Homo sapiens: one gene and its partners. The protein of the gene in region 2 purifies or fractionates together with the protein of the main gene of each other region. This does not show direct contact. Each region holds a gene or a part of one and is shown on either strand. Other genes may lie near its edges.

The links. Proteins that work in one complex are often made in the same cells at the same time.
Region 1: the proteins of OSTM1 (region 2) and HEATR6 purify together in Homo sapiens (co-immunoprecipitation; one large-scale study listed by IntAct). This does not show direct contact.
Region 3: the proteins of OSTM1 (region 2) and GUF1 purify together in Homo sapiens (affinity purification with mass spectrometry; one large-scale study listed by BioGRID and IntAct). This does not show direct contact.
Region 4: the proteins of OSTM1 (region 2) and SEPTIN2 fractionate together in Homo sapiens (co-fractionation; one large-scale study listed by BioGRID). This does not show direct contact.

The regions. Positions count from the first base shown.
Region 1 is NC_000017.11:60,044,422-60,047,921, forward strand, and holds part of HEATR6 (HEAT repeat-containing protein 6), read right to left. Parts: intron 2,985-3,500; coding exon 2,888-2,984; intron 1,809-2,887; coding exon 1,604-1,808; intron 1-1,603. UniProt on the Homo sapiens protein: Amplification-dependent oncogene.
Region 2 is NC_000006.12:108,047,242-108,050,741, reverse strand, and holds part of OSTM1 (osteopetrosis-associated transmembrane protein 1 precursor), read left to right. Parts: intron 1-1,158; coding exon of another isoform or gene 1,159-1,210; intron 1,211-1,323; coding exon 1,324-1,489; intron 1,490-3,500. UniProt on the Homo sapiens protein: Required for osteoclast and melanocyte maturation and function.
Region 3 is NC_000004.12:44,698,424-44,701,428, forward strand, and holds the end of GUF1 (translation factor GUF1, mitochondrial), read left to right. Parts: intron 1-120; coding exon 121-258; 3' UTR 259-2,505; downstream 2,506-3,005. UniProt on the Homo sapiens protein: Promotes mitochondrial protein synthesis. May act as a fidelity factor of the translation reaction, by catalyzing a one-codon backward translocation of tRNAs on improperly translocated ribosomes. Binds to mitochondrial ribosomes in a GTP-dependent manner.
Region 4 is NC_000002.12:241,322,425-241,325,924, forward strand, and holds part of SEPTIN2 (septin-2), read left to right. Parts: intron 1-1,791; coding exon of another isoform or gene 1,792-1,808; coding exon 1,809-1,817; intron 1,818-3,500.

The sequences.
Region 1 (3,500 bases), on a different chromosome or scaffold from region 2:
TCTTCTCTGGGAGGATTCTGTCCCGTTGGGGTATGGCTTTGTGGGCAGAGCGTGGACTGAACTGCAACCCCACCTATCCTCTCAGCTGGGCACTTCTGAGCTGTGTGCAAGCCACACACTGCATGCTCACCTGCAACAGCATCCAGACACTGCTCTGGCCATAGCCAGTCATGCATTTTATTGCAAAGAAAAAGAAAACTTACAATTTCAAGAATAAGATGCCCAGATTTCTATCTTTTCTCCACACCTGTAGGCCCTAGGAAATCAGCCTGCTTTCCTCCTTACCAGAGCTACTGCTACCCACTCCACTTTGGGGTGTCCTTACTCAAGATGGGTGACAGAGTAGAATGCAGCTTCTCTTAACTCTCCCAGCCCTTCCTGGCTTCTCTGTTGCCTCTGAAGACCGGCAAGCAGGCCCTTTCCATTTGGTGGATGCCAGTGCCATTGACAATGGGCCACTGCTAGAGCTATGAGACACTCACAATCCGACCCGTCAGAGTCCTTTATCAGTTTCTAGCTCCCTTTTCTTATGTGGCTCTTGATAGCTCTGCTACTGGATGCTTTCTAGTTCTCAAACTTCCTGCCTCTTTGGAGCTTCCCTTTCCCTCCAAGTCATGCAGGTAAACTTCTCTCTCTAGTAGGCTGAGGGCAAGGGCCATACAGGAAGGCTGGTAGGAGCCAACCACCACTGAGGTGCCCTGGTTTCAAGGACTTCTTGGCTCTCCAGAAGGCGGATAACCACCTCAATGGGCTCCAACCCAAAAGGTCACCCTTAGGTGACTTCCTCAATGGAAGAAGCCGGGAAGCTACCTTACATACTCCCAGCTGACTGGTCTGCCTGGACGCTCTGGGCAATAAAGGGGAGCAGAGCCAGACTCCCCTCACTTGATGTGTGCTCTCCTCTCCAGGAACACATCCTTAGGTCTCAGATCTGAGAGAGAGAGATGCAATAAAGCGAACGCTGGCATTCAAAGTGAGCGAGGTTTGGAGGCTCCGATCCATACACCTAAGCAGCTACTGGTCCTGAATGACATATCAAGGTGCATGGCATGCCACTACTTAGAGACAGATGCCCTCCTTACATTTATTAATGGCATCCACTTCTGTACACAGCTCATAGGGGATTTCCAGTTTATATTCCCTCTCATTCCAGTTTTTTTCCTTCCTGTTTTCTTGACCATTAAAGTAATATATGCTTATTGTAGACAACTGAGAAAATGAAAACAGAAAAAATCCTACCCATCCAGAGGCAATCACTGTTAATAATTAGTCCAATTTCCTTTCAGTCTTTTTTCTACCCATCTATTGAGATCATTCTGTAGAAATTATTTAATACCTGCTTTCATTTGTTTAACATCAGAAGTATTTTTCCAGATTATCAAATTCTTGTAAGTAATTTTAAATGGCAACAAAATATCCCATTATATATCCCATTGTATAGGTAATGATGTATTTCAATGTCCCCCTAAACTTGTCTTCAGTATGTCTCCATTTTTTCCTAATACTATGACAAATAACATGTGACAAACATCTTTAACAACAACGTAGATTGGTGTGTGTCCCAAGAGGCTTTCCACCAGGGAGTGAAGGGAAACTTTCTTACCTAAAGGAAGGGCAGGATTTTTAAATACATTTCCCATTGCATAACAAGCATTCCATCGGACTTTCATGGCAGCTTCTGTTAGAACAGTAGAAATTAGGGCCTGGATAGACTCCTCAATGATTTCTGCAAATGTGGGTTTTTCTATATGAGAGGGTTGCAGAAAATGAAGCAAATTTCCAAGGGCCCGGACTGCATTGCTTTTTACCTAGAAAAAATGTAAATGCTTTAGAAATCTGTTTGGCCAAAGAGATGTTTCCAAAAGTCTAATTTCAGCTTTAAAAAAACCCAGGAGGTCTTCAACTTCTTAAAGCAAGTCCTTGGAACTCACAAGGTCTGCTCTGGTTAACATCCTGAGCCATCAGAAATGTGAGGTTCTACAGAACTCCTCTCTCTGATTATTTATTTATTTATTTTATTTAGTGCTAGACAGGACCTCAGAGAGGTCCATCTTCCTTGTTTTACTGAGATGGAGTATAAGGACCGGGAACAACAGGACAAGGCTGATTGATAGCAAGACAATGAGGAGAAGCTAGGTTCCATAATTCCAGTCCAATACTTTTCTACTAGACTAGAGTCTCAACCTCTGCAGCCCATCAGAATCATTTGGGGAGGTTTCTCCTTTTGTTTTAAAACCGATTCGGAGGCCCTAACCTCAGAATTTCTGATTGAATTACTCTGAGGTAGGGCTTCCTGGGTGATTACCAGATTTTCAGAAGTAGTATTAAAGTGAGCACATGGTATGGGTCAGGTACTGTGCTAGGTGCTTTAACATAAGGCATCTTCATATCCAGTGAGGTATATAACTTCCATGTTACATGTGAGGAGCTGACCTTCAGAGAAGTTATGTAATATACCAAACTTACCCAGTTACTAAAGGGCGAGCCAGGGCTTGAATCCATGTATGTCTGACCTAAAGCCCAGACATGTGCTTTTTAAACTTATTAGTTTAACAGGTAATATTCAAAGCCAAGAGCTACTCATCTTTCTGACTTGTCAATTTTTTTTTTTTGGAAAATAAAAAAAAGTTAATTTTAAAAGGAATCTGAATATGTCATGTAGTATTACAATGGGCACTGATATTTTTCAGGAGGCAGGAGACAGTAAAGAAACCATACACGTGTGGAATGGGCCATTTATACCCTGAGCACACCCTCAGTCTCTTTTGAACAGGAGTACATTTGGTGGGACAGTCTGAGGAACATCAAGCCACACTGAACTACCACACTGCAGCTACAATACATTAACTATCTGTTTGGGAGATACTGGGTTTTGTTGTGAGTCTACCTTGTCTTTATCCTTGGATGCTTCTATAGCTGATCGTAACATTTTCAAGAGCAGGAGACCAGAGAACTCTTCCTGGAAACTTGGGTCTGGTGTTTCCCTGTTCCACCCAAAGCAGACAACACATGTTAAAAGGTAAATACACTTAAATATATACATATAGAAATATATTCAATTAGTATAAGCCTAAAAGTTTAGGAAAACAGTTTAACAAATCTGCTTAGATTATATCAAGAAACTTACATTATATATCTTTTGACCCAATAGTTCCCCACATAGGAATGTCTCAAAAAAAAAAAAATCTCAAAATGCAGATTTCATGCACAAAAATATTCCCTGAATATAAAAGCCTACAAGCCTAAAGACTAAAACAAATGTTCAGTAATAGAAAAATGGTTAATCATCACACAGTGATAATTATGTAATCATAAATAAGGATTTCTAACAAGTCAATAATAGAATGCTTACACATTTTACATGTTGCTTATACGCTGAAGTGACAAAAAGCAGGACACGTGCACATGAATAACCAGCTACCTCTGGGGAGGGGAACTAAGGTGTCAGGGTAGAAGAAAGGCTTCACACTGAATGCTGCTTTGTACTATCTGGATTTTTT
Region 2 (3,500 bases):
GCCATTTGCAGAGGTGTAGGTATTGTTATATGTTTATATTTCAGTTTCTTGTGCACTTGTTGCTAATTTAAGAAGTTTCTGAGCTGGGCACGGTGACTACACCTGTAATCCCAGTACTTTGGGAGGCTGAGGCGGGCAGATCACGAAGTCAGGAGTTCAAGACCAGCCTGACCAACATGGTGAAACCCCGTCTCTACTAAAAATAGAAAAATTAGCCGGGTGTAGTGGCACACGCCTGTTATCCCAGCTATTCAGGAGGCTGAGGCAGGAGAATCGCTTGAAACCGGGAGGGAGAGGTTGCAGTGAGCTGAGATCGTGCCAGTGCACTCCAGCCTGGGCGACAGAGCGAGACTCCGTCTCAAAAAAAAAAAAAAAAAAAAAAAGACGTTTCTGGATTTCACTACATGTTTCAGAAGCCATTCCTCAATCACTTCCTATTCCATTGTTTTATTTTCTTATATCTATTACCATCTGAAAATATTTATTTATTTATTTTTAGTCTGTCTTCCTCACTAAAATATAAGCCACATGAGGACAAGGACTTAGGCTTTTTTTGTTCACTATTCAGTATTTAGGACAGTATTTAGGACAGTCTAGCATATAATGGGCTTAATAAACATGTATTAATTGAATGGTCAAAAAAAATTTTTTTTTCTCCATTTTATAGCCTGCCTTTACATAGGGTGCCACTAGATGGCAATCATGCCTTTTTAGGCACTATGATGCTGGAGTTTTGGGGCATTAGAGGAAACTGAGAAATTATTGGCTCAAAGTAGAGAACTTGAGGTCAGAATTAATGAGCTTAAGAATTGAGAATGTGTGAATTATCACAGCAGCTCAGAGGGAACTATAAGAACCAATAATATTCGAGATGGTAAAAAGTACTTAAAATGAAATGTACAGTGTGGCTTTTTGTTTGTTTTTACTGCTCCATTCCTATTGCCTAAAACAGTACCTGGTTTCTAGTAGGCTCTCAATAAATAATAAATATTTTGTAAATGAATAAAACAGGGCCTAACTATATTCCTCTTCATATAAGTTCTTTGTTTGAATGTACAAATGGTTGACATTCTAGAATACTTTGGTCAGTATTATGGACTTAGAATATGAAATTTCTGTATGGATATAAATTTCTACAATGACTGTATTTTGAACCAGGTTTTTTTCCTGGCAGAAGAAGTTGTCCTCAACTATCAGTAGGTTTTTAGAGGTATGTATTGAGTCTAAATTCTAGATTCCTGTTTAGTTATTAGCAAAATAATTATAAGAAATTGAAGACAAGTTAAATATAAAATAGAAAGATATTGTTTGCTCTTGTTCCAGATGAACATCACTCGAAAACTATGGAGTCGAACTTTCAACTGTTCAGTCCCTTGCAGTGACACAGTGCCTGTAATTGCTGTTTCTGTGTTCATTCTCTTTCTACCTGTTGTCTTCTACCTTAGTAGCTTTCTTCACTCAGAGCAAAAGAAACGCAAACTCATTCTGCGTAAGTTTTTTACAATTATTTATTTTATAGATAAAAGCCTGTATTTTAAAAATTTAGGCCTGTTTTAGAAATGATAGCTACTCTGAGAACTCAAAGTAGATTAGCCTAAAAGGACTCTCTGCTTTAAGTTTTACAATCATGCTTACTAGTGAAAGAGATCTGTGAAAATTTTATAAGTGTGGACAATAAAAAGTTAAAACAGGGCTAGGTGCAGTGGCTCATGCCTGTAATCCCAGCACTTTGGGAGGATGAGGTGGGCGGATCACGAGGTCAGGAGATCGAGACCATCCTGGCTAACACGGTGAAACCCCATCTCTACTAAAAATGCAAAAAATTAGCCGGGCATGATGGCGCATGCCTGTAGTTCCAGCTACTCGGGAGGCTGAGGCAGGAGAATCATTTGAACTTGGGAGGCGGAGGTTGCAGTGAACCGAGATCGCACCACTGCACGCCAGCCTGGGAGACAGAGTGAGACTGTCTCAAAAAAAAAAAAAAAAAAAAAAGTTAAAACACAGTGTCTTTCAGATGATTAAATTGAGAAAGCTAGATTACCCCTGGAATAAGGTTGGCAACAACAGAAGAATAACAACAGAGGCTTTGCACTCCTAACATGGCAATAGCAGGGAGATACAGACAGCTCTTAGACCCATCGGAGTCATGGTAGAACCACCTAAGTGTGGCAGGCAGGAAGAAACTATAGCTGACATAACAGACAGTTTGTTTGTGAACAAATTGGAATCGTAGTTCCAAGGAGATTACTTGATATAATAGTATATGCTCAATACATATTAATTCCCTTTCTTTCTCCCTATGAAATAGGCCAGAGCAAAAGAAGCACTAACTAGAGATCCCATCCAGCTAAGGAAGAGTGGCTTCTAAGTCACGTGGCTTTCTTGTTTATTATCAGAATGAAAGTACAGGCTTATGCCTTAATAATTTTAGTTTTTAAAAAAGAGAACTGTTTAGGGGAAAAGGTTAATTTTCTTTTCTCTCAAATACTATTTGTAGTCTAGGAATGTCTGATATAAAAATTCTTTTCCCTATAAATTTCGATCACTACTTCATCTAACTTCACTTCTAATATATCTAATTTTTTTAAAAAAAGGTTACCTGTAGATCAGTTTGAACTGAATTTGTAATGTTTTGTCACCTTAAAATGCTAGCTACTAGAGGGGAGAGTCTTTGTCATGGGTGTATTTATTAAAGGTTTTTTGAAGGCTGCCAGCATTCTGTAAATATGCAGTAGCTCAGGTCCTTAAAGCACTTACTTAGAATAATAGCAAAATATTGTGGGCACCTCACCATTGAGAAACTATTTTTCAGAGCTTGGTATACTTTTAAAGTTTAGCATCTTATTTGCCTTGCTAATCTATTTAACTTTATGGAAAGTATTTACTGCTTCTGATCAGGATTTTTTGTTTGCTGTCAAAGTAAAAGTCACTACCAGTGTCACTATTTGCTATGGAAGCCACAAACCTTGTAGTCATTTCTTAATTATTTTCTTTCTTTTATTTTTCCATTCCCACATTCCCCTCTCATCCCCTTTTAATTCATTAGCAAGTATGCTGCCAGTTCTGCTTAGTCCGTCTCTCTCCCTCCACTGGTAAACCCTAGCCCAAACCATCTTCATCTCTTATCTGTACTAACGCAAGAGCCCCTTAACTGGTATCCCTCCTTCCATTTCTTGATCTACTAAAATCCATACGCCACATAGTGGCTAGAATAATTTTTTAAACACAAATTCACCATGTTTCTCTACTAACTTGGAATGCTTAATGTGTTCCCATTGTACCTAGAATAAATCCAAACTTACTTTCCAGGGTCTGCTCTCCAAGCTGTACATGACCTGGCCCATAGCCACCTTTCTAAACTCGTCACATCCATTCTCCTCATTGCTCATGGTGCTGTGGACAGTCTGGTTCCTTTCTGTTCTTCTCCACTACCAAGCTCATTCACACTGCCCCTTTTCCAAGGCCCTTCCCTCTTTACTTACCTGGCTTCTTGCAAGCCA
Region 3 (3,005 bases), on a different chromosome or scaffold from region 2:
TGTCTGCCTTATGGATAATAATTTGGTATGGTTGTTAAGGTTGTACTGATGCCGCTGTAATCATATGATTGTTTCTCTTTAGAGTGACTTAGACTTCCAATGTTTTAAAATATTTTTCAGTATGGTGGTGATATTACCCGAAAAATGAAGCTTTTGAAGAGACAAGCAGAAGGGAAAAAAAAGCTGAGGAAAATTGGCAACGTTGAAGTTCCAAAAGATGCTTTTATAAAAGTTCTGAAAACACAATCTTCTAAATAATTGGTGGGAAAACAAAGAATTTTCATTGCAATTTGTAATATGCTGACAACAGAAAGAAAATTATAAAATTTGCTTGTTACTTTCAGGGTATTCAGGTTCAAATAACCTACTAGTCTTTCGTTGAAAGGGAGTAGTTAGTGGGTAGGCAAGAGCTTAGATTTTGAAGCCATGTTGCCTGTTCTCAAATATCTGTTCCAACCACTCACTAGTAAGGTGACCGTGGCCAGATTAACCTTTGTTTCCTCTTCAGTAAAATCGAGATTATACTACTACCTACATAAGTTGTTGTTGTGAAGATTAAATGAGGTAATACGTTAAATATTCAGAGGTGCAAGACACATAGTAAGCACTCAATTGTAACTACAGTTAAGTCCTTAAATGCCATCGAAAGGTTCTTAGAAACTGACTTTAAGCAAAATGACACGTAGCACAATGTTCTTGAATGATGTCATTTCCTTAAGTGGTTTGTAACATCGATGAGGAAAAAAAATTGGTTTATGCGTCATTTCATTTTATTTTTATTTATTTTTTGAGACAGAGTCTTGCCCTGTCGCCCAGGCTGGAGTGCAATGGCACAATCTCGACTCACTGCAACCTCTGCCTCCTGGGTTCAAGAGATTCTCCTGCCTCAGCCTCCATTACAGGCGTGCACCACCATGCTCGGCTAATTTTTTGTATCTTTAGTAGAGTCGGGGTTTCACCATGTTGGCCAGGCTGGTCTTGAACTCCTGACCTCGTGATCCACCCACCGTGGCCTCCCAAAGTGCTGATTACAGGTGTGAGCCACCATGCCCAGCCATGTCATTTCATTTAAAGTCACAATTTCCATGAATCTCAACAAGTGAGGACCTGCTATATTTTGTTGCATGCAGTTTTTCTTTACGGACACTAAAAGGCCCCATACTTAAGATTCCATCTACTTTAAGTTTAAAGGATTTTCAGAATCACCTTAAGTGTCAAATTTGTTAGCAGGATTAATTGATATGAATTCACTTATTAAACAGTAAACTCAAATAACATAGACATCAAATAACAGACATCTGCTCTAGTTAATGATAAAATGTTTATAGATTTTATCAGGTGGTTAGTTTGAAACTAAATGGTTTACATCTAAATTAAGGGCAGGAGCTGTCTTTCAGACATTCAAAACGCATTTGTGTAAAATGACAGGTGTTTGGTATTACCAGGAACTCATAATGACATTTTAATAATTATTGTCTAAATTTCATAATCGAAGCGATTTTAGAGTAGTTAACTTGAGATTTCACAGCCAGTAAATGGCTGTATTTCTCCAGAGCTCTCAGCTCCCATGTTTATTCAGCCAACGAACAAACCAGACTGCAGACTGTATTAGAGCAAGACAACATCATTTAGCCATTGATTTTTATCTTCTACCTTGAATGAATTGAATGAAGAAAATGTCTTTTAGGGATAAACACTATCAAGGATGAATTTTATACTAAGGTTATATGAAAGAAAAATCTCAAAACCACTAAGCCAAAGGGAAGTCAAGCTGGGAACTGATTGAGGCAAACCTGCCTCCCATTTTATTCCTAAATAAGACAGCCACAAAGATAAAATTTGCTCACAAGGGAATTCCTTATGGACAAAGAACTCAAAGTCTTCACATGAAACAAATGCATAAATGATTGCTTTCTCTGTTTCATGTTTCACTAAGCCAGATTAAGGTATAACTGACTATTCCTCTACTCTCCTCTCACATGTAAATTGTATATTCAGTGAAAGGCTAATCAGAAACTCAAAAAAATGCAACCCTTTCTCTCTTACCTGCCTATGCTTGAAGCCCCCGCCCCTCTTCAAGTTGTCCTGCCTTTCAAGACCAATGTACACCTTACACATACTGATTGATGTCTCATGTCTCTCTAAAATGTGTAAAACCAAGCTGTGCCCCAACCACCTTGGGCACATGTGGTGAGGACCTCCTGAGGCTGTGTCATGGGCACACCTTAACCCTGGGAAAATAAACTTTCTAAACTGACTTGAGAGCTGTCTCAGATATTTTGAGCTTACAGTTATTGTGAAATCATTTTAATTATAAATTAAGTGGAGATTTACTTAAAATCATGTGTAGAAGTAGCCTGTGATATAGTCCTAGATACATACATTATCATCTTATGTATCTTCCCTCCCTCTTCCAGGTTCTGATAAAAACAGATGAAATCTGAAAGACCATGACAGTAGTATTTTGAAAATGACAGTATTTGAAATTAAAAAATTGTAAAAGTGTTCTGTTCTATCACTGCCAAAGGATAAGTTACAAATTGGTTCTTGGAACGTAATATGTACTATGTGCTTGCTATTTAATAATTTACCAGTCTTAGTCTTTTTTATTCAGACTAATTTTACCTTTTTTTAACCTATGACTCTTTAGTTATAGTAGTACAAAAAAGTAGTTTTAGTTATAGTTTTAGTTGTAGTACAAAAAAGCATTTTCTGTAAGCTTAATTTCTTTCCCCTTCCCGCTTTCCCAGTCAGATGACTTTAGTGATTTGGAGTTGTGTGCTTTATAAGTGCATTCCTCAGAGGACTTAATATTACTAAGATTTTAGCAAACACTGAAATATGTTTAAACACTGTTATCAATATTAAAATAGCACCGTTTATTGACTTTAATATGTGACAACCACTGTGCTGAGCTATGTATGCTTCCCTTATTCAATCTATGTAAAAATTTTGGGGAAGTAGCTGAGACTTTTTTATTTCCCTGACAGAGCTGGGATTCAGTG
Region 4 (3,500 bases), on a different chromosome or scaffold from region 2:
GAAACCCCATCTCTACTAAAAATTAAAAAAAAATTAGCCGGGCATGGTGGCGGGCGCCTGTAGTCCCAGCTACTCGGGAGGCTGAGGCAGGAGAAGGGCGTGAACCCAGGAGGTGGAGGTTGCAGTGAGCTGAGATCACCCACTGTACTTCAGCCCGGGAGACAATGCGAGACTCCGTCTCAAAAAAAAAAAAAGAAAAGAGAAAAAAAAATTCCACATATCTTTAAAAATATTGTCACATTTTTCAGACACTCAGATGCCTTCAGTACTATTTCCTTTCCTCATAAATGTAGTTCACATTGCTCTCTGTACCCCAGTGTCAAAATCTAGTTCTCAGGTAGCTCTAGGAAACTCCAGTGGGTGGCAAACATGTTCAAGTTACAGTGCTCTATGTAATGAAGTCCCTTACTCCTTGAAAGGTTTCAAAGAGAGAGGGGAAATGACATAATTCCAGAGGTCAGGGAAGTATGTATCCGTGTGTATCCCATTTGTGTCCCTAGTGTCTAACATATAGTCAGTACTGAAAAAAAATTTGAATATTATTGAAAATATGGAATATGTGCGTACATATATATATACAGTTGCTTTTATCAACTTAAAAATTTTTTTAATTTTTTAATTTTTTGTAGAGATAGGGTTTTGCTATGTTGCCCAGATTGGTGTTGAATTTTTGGCTTCAAGCAGTCCTGCCTCTGCTTCCCAAACTGCTGGGATTACAGGCGTCAGCCACTGCACCCAGCCACCATCTAATTTTTTTTTTTTTTTTAATGGAGTCTCACTCTGTTGCCCAGGTTGGAGTGCAGTGGCATGATCTCGGCTCACTGCAACCTCCGCCTCCCAGGTTCAAGCGATTCTCCTGTCTCAGCCTTCTGAGTAGCTGGGATCACAGGCACGCACCACCACGCCTGGCTGAATCAGTATTTTTAGTAGAGACGGGGTTTCACCATGTTGGCCAGGCTGGTCTTGAACTCCTGACCTCAAGCGCCACCATGCCTGGCTGAATCAGTATTTTTAGTAGAGATGGGGTTTCACCATGTTGGCCAGGCTGGTCTTGAACTCCTGACCTCAAGTGGTCTGCCTACCTCGGCCTCCCAAAGTGCTGGAATTACAGGCGTGAGCATCACGTCTGGCCTAATTTTTTTAATCGAATTTATTTTTGTAATGATAGATGCTTGTCTTATTCCTAGGGAAATATTTGAAGTAATTGAGATGCTGTCACCTAAAATAATCAAAAGGCTCCTGATTCAGTTAAAAGAATTCATTTAAGTACAGAGTGTAAGCGAGCTACACCAAAGAATGGTGATTAGCGCTCCCAGGGTGGGGAAAAATGAGGATTGTTTATATAGGCAAAATGGAGGTGCCAAACAGAATTATAACATTTTCGGAACTAAGGCTCATTTAAAGATACAAATTTGATTGGCTACTATTGATTACACTTGAAGGGATTTGTTTAACTTCCTTTTGTAAAGAAGTAACAGTCATAAGGATCTCTCATCTCCCAGTCATTTAGTCTAGTTTTGAATAAAGAATAGGGGGTCTGGTTAATATATACATCTAAACACAAAAGTCAGAAAGAATAAAAGTAGTGATGTTACACGAGCCAGCTGTCAGTGCTTAACTTTTCCCTTTGGCCTAATGCATTTGGAAGGTCCTGAAATTGTATTTTCTTTTTACATTGCCTATGTATGTGTAAGTCTTCTTCAGGTCAGTTCACGCTGTTAAATATACGTGCGTATACATACATACTATGTATGTGCGTTTATGTGTGTCTGTGTGTTTTTTTTTTAACAGACGAAGCTTCACAAAAGATGTCTAAGGTAAGATCATACTTCATGTATCTACAGCATAAGGAGAAATTGCTTTATGTTTTCAGACTGTTGACAGTCGGGACTTATATGATTCATTATTTTTAATACAACTGATACATTTGATTCATTAACACAAAGAGTTCTAATTTAGTTGTCTTTTTTTTTTTTTTTTTGAGACGGGAGTCTTGTTCTGTCACCAGGCTGGAGTGCAGTGGCATGATCTCAGCTCACTGCAACTTCTGCCTCCCACGTTCAAGCGATTCCCCTGGCTCAGCCTCCGGAGTAGCTGGGACTGCAGACACGTGCCACCACGCTGGCTAATTTTTTGGATTTTAGTAAATTCGGGGTTTCACCGTGTTGGCCAGGATGGCCTTGATCTGTTGACCTCGTGATCCACCCGCTTTGGCCCCCCGAAGTGTTGGGATTACAGGTGTGAGCCACCGTGCCTGGCCTAATTGTCATCTTAAAAGCTTGGAGCTTTCTCTTTTTTCAGGCTTCTACTTTCTTTTCTCTACACACATCAGTAACAGTCCTTTTGGCCCCCTTAGTTCATTCCCAGCAGACCAGATAATTTAGAATTCTGATAATTTATTATGATGAAATTGATGGGGCTCTTAGACTTGATAAATTGGTTTAAATCAGCCTTTGCAAGTTAGTTCAGAGATAAATTAGTGCTAAAGAACATATTCTGAGAAAAGCAGAACTTGTGGTTAACATTGCAAGATTATTATTTCTGTTTTTTTTTTATCTTTGAATCCTGTGGGTGTTCATTACTGTCCAATGCAAAATCATCATACCAGTTTTTGCATTTTATACCAGTGTTAGCATGGAACACAGATAAGCAAAAAAAAAAGTCATTATTTCACCACTCAGGAATAACCACTGTTAATATGTTACATATATTCTTTTTCACCTGTGTGTGCATTTGACTATACATTTACAAAATGTAATCCTAAAGGAAATACTATTTTGTATCTTGCCTTTTTCAATTAATAAATTGATTTTTAAAATTTCTTCTCATTTTCAGTATGCCACTGTCTAGATTCTGGTTACTTCTGCTATTCTTGCCTTCTCATATCTCTGTCCTCTCTCTCATCAGATACCCTTCTGTCAAGGAATATTGATGCTTCAGTGTAGTCATCTATGATCTTCTCATTCTGTCTTTTCTTTCTTGGTCTTTGACACTAGATACTCAACATCCCACCCCTAATTTGCCTGCCTCACCCTTGATGAAACTCTGTTCTATAGAGCTAGAAGCACAGCAAGAGAGATGCTTTTTTCCTCGATACTTTTCAGAAATGCATTGCACCTAATACCTGGGAGAAGCTATTCTTTAGCCAAGTTTGTTGAATGAAACCATTCATTCAAAGTACTGTCAGCTGTAGCAGTACTTTGTAAGCTTGACTGATTTTCCTGGAACTCCATAGTCTCTCAAGTCGAAATTTGAAATTGCATTAAGATGTATTAAGCATGTATCTTCTATGTATTGTTAAATTCCTAAACAGAATACTGATTAACAAAATGTTAATTTTCAGTCGCATACAACTAAGGAGTTATACTAGATAAGTTTTTCTTTTTTTAATGCTCCTAGTTGAATACTACTGGTTTTCTGATAGAAGTATGACCTTCTGGAAGTGTTTATACTTTTTAAAAAATTTGTGAAAACTGATAACCTATGTTTGTTTCATGTCT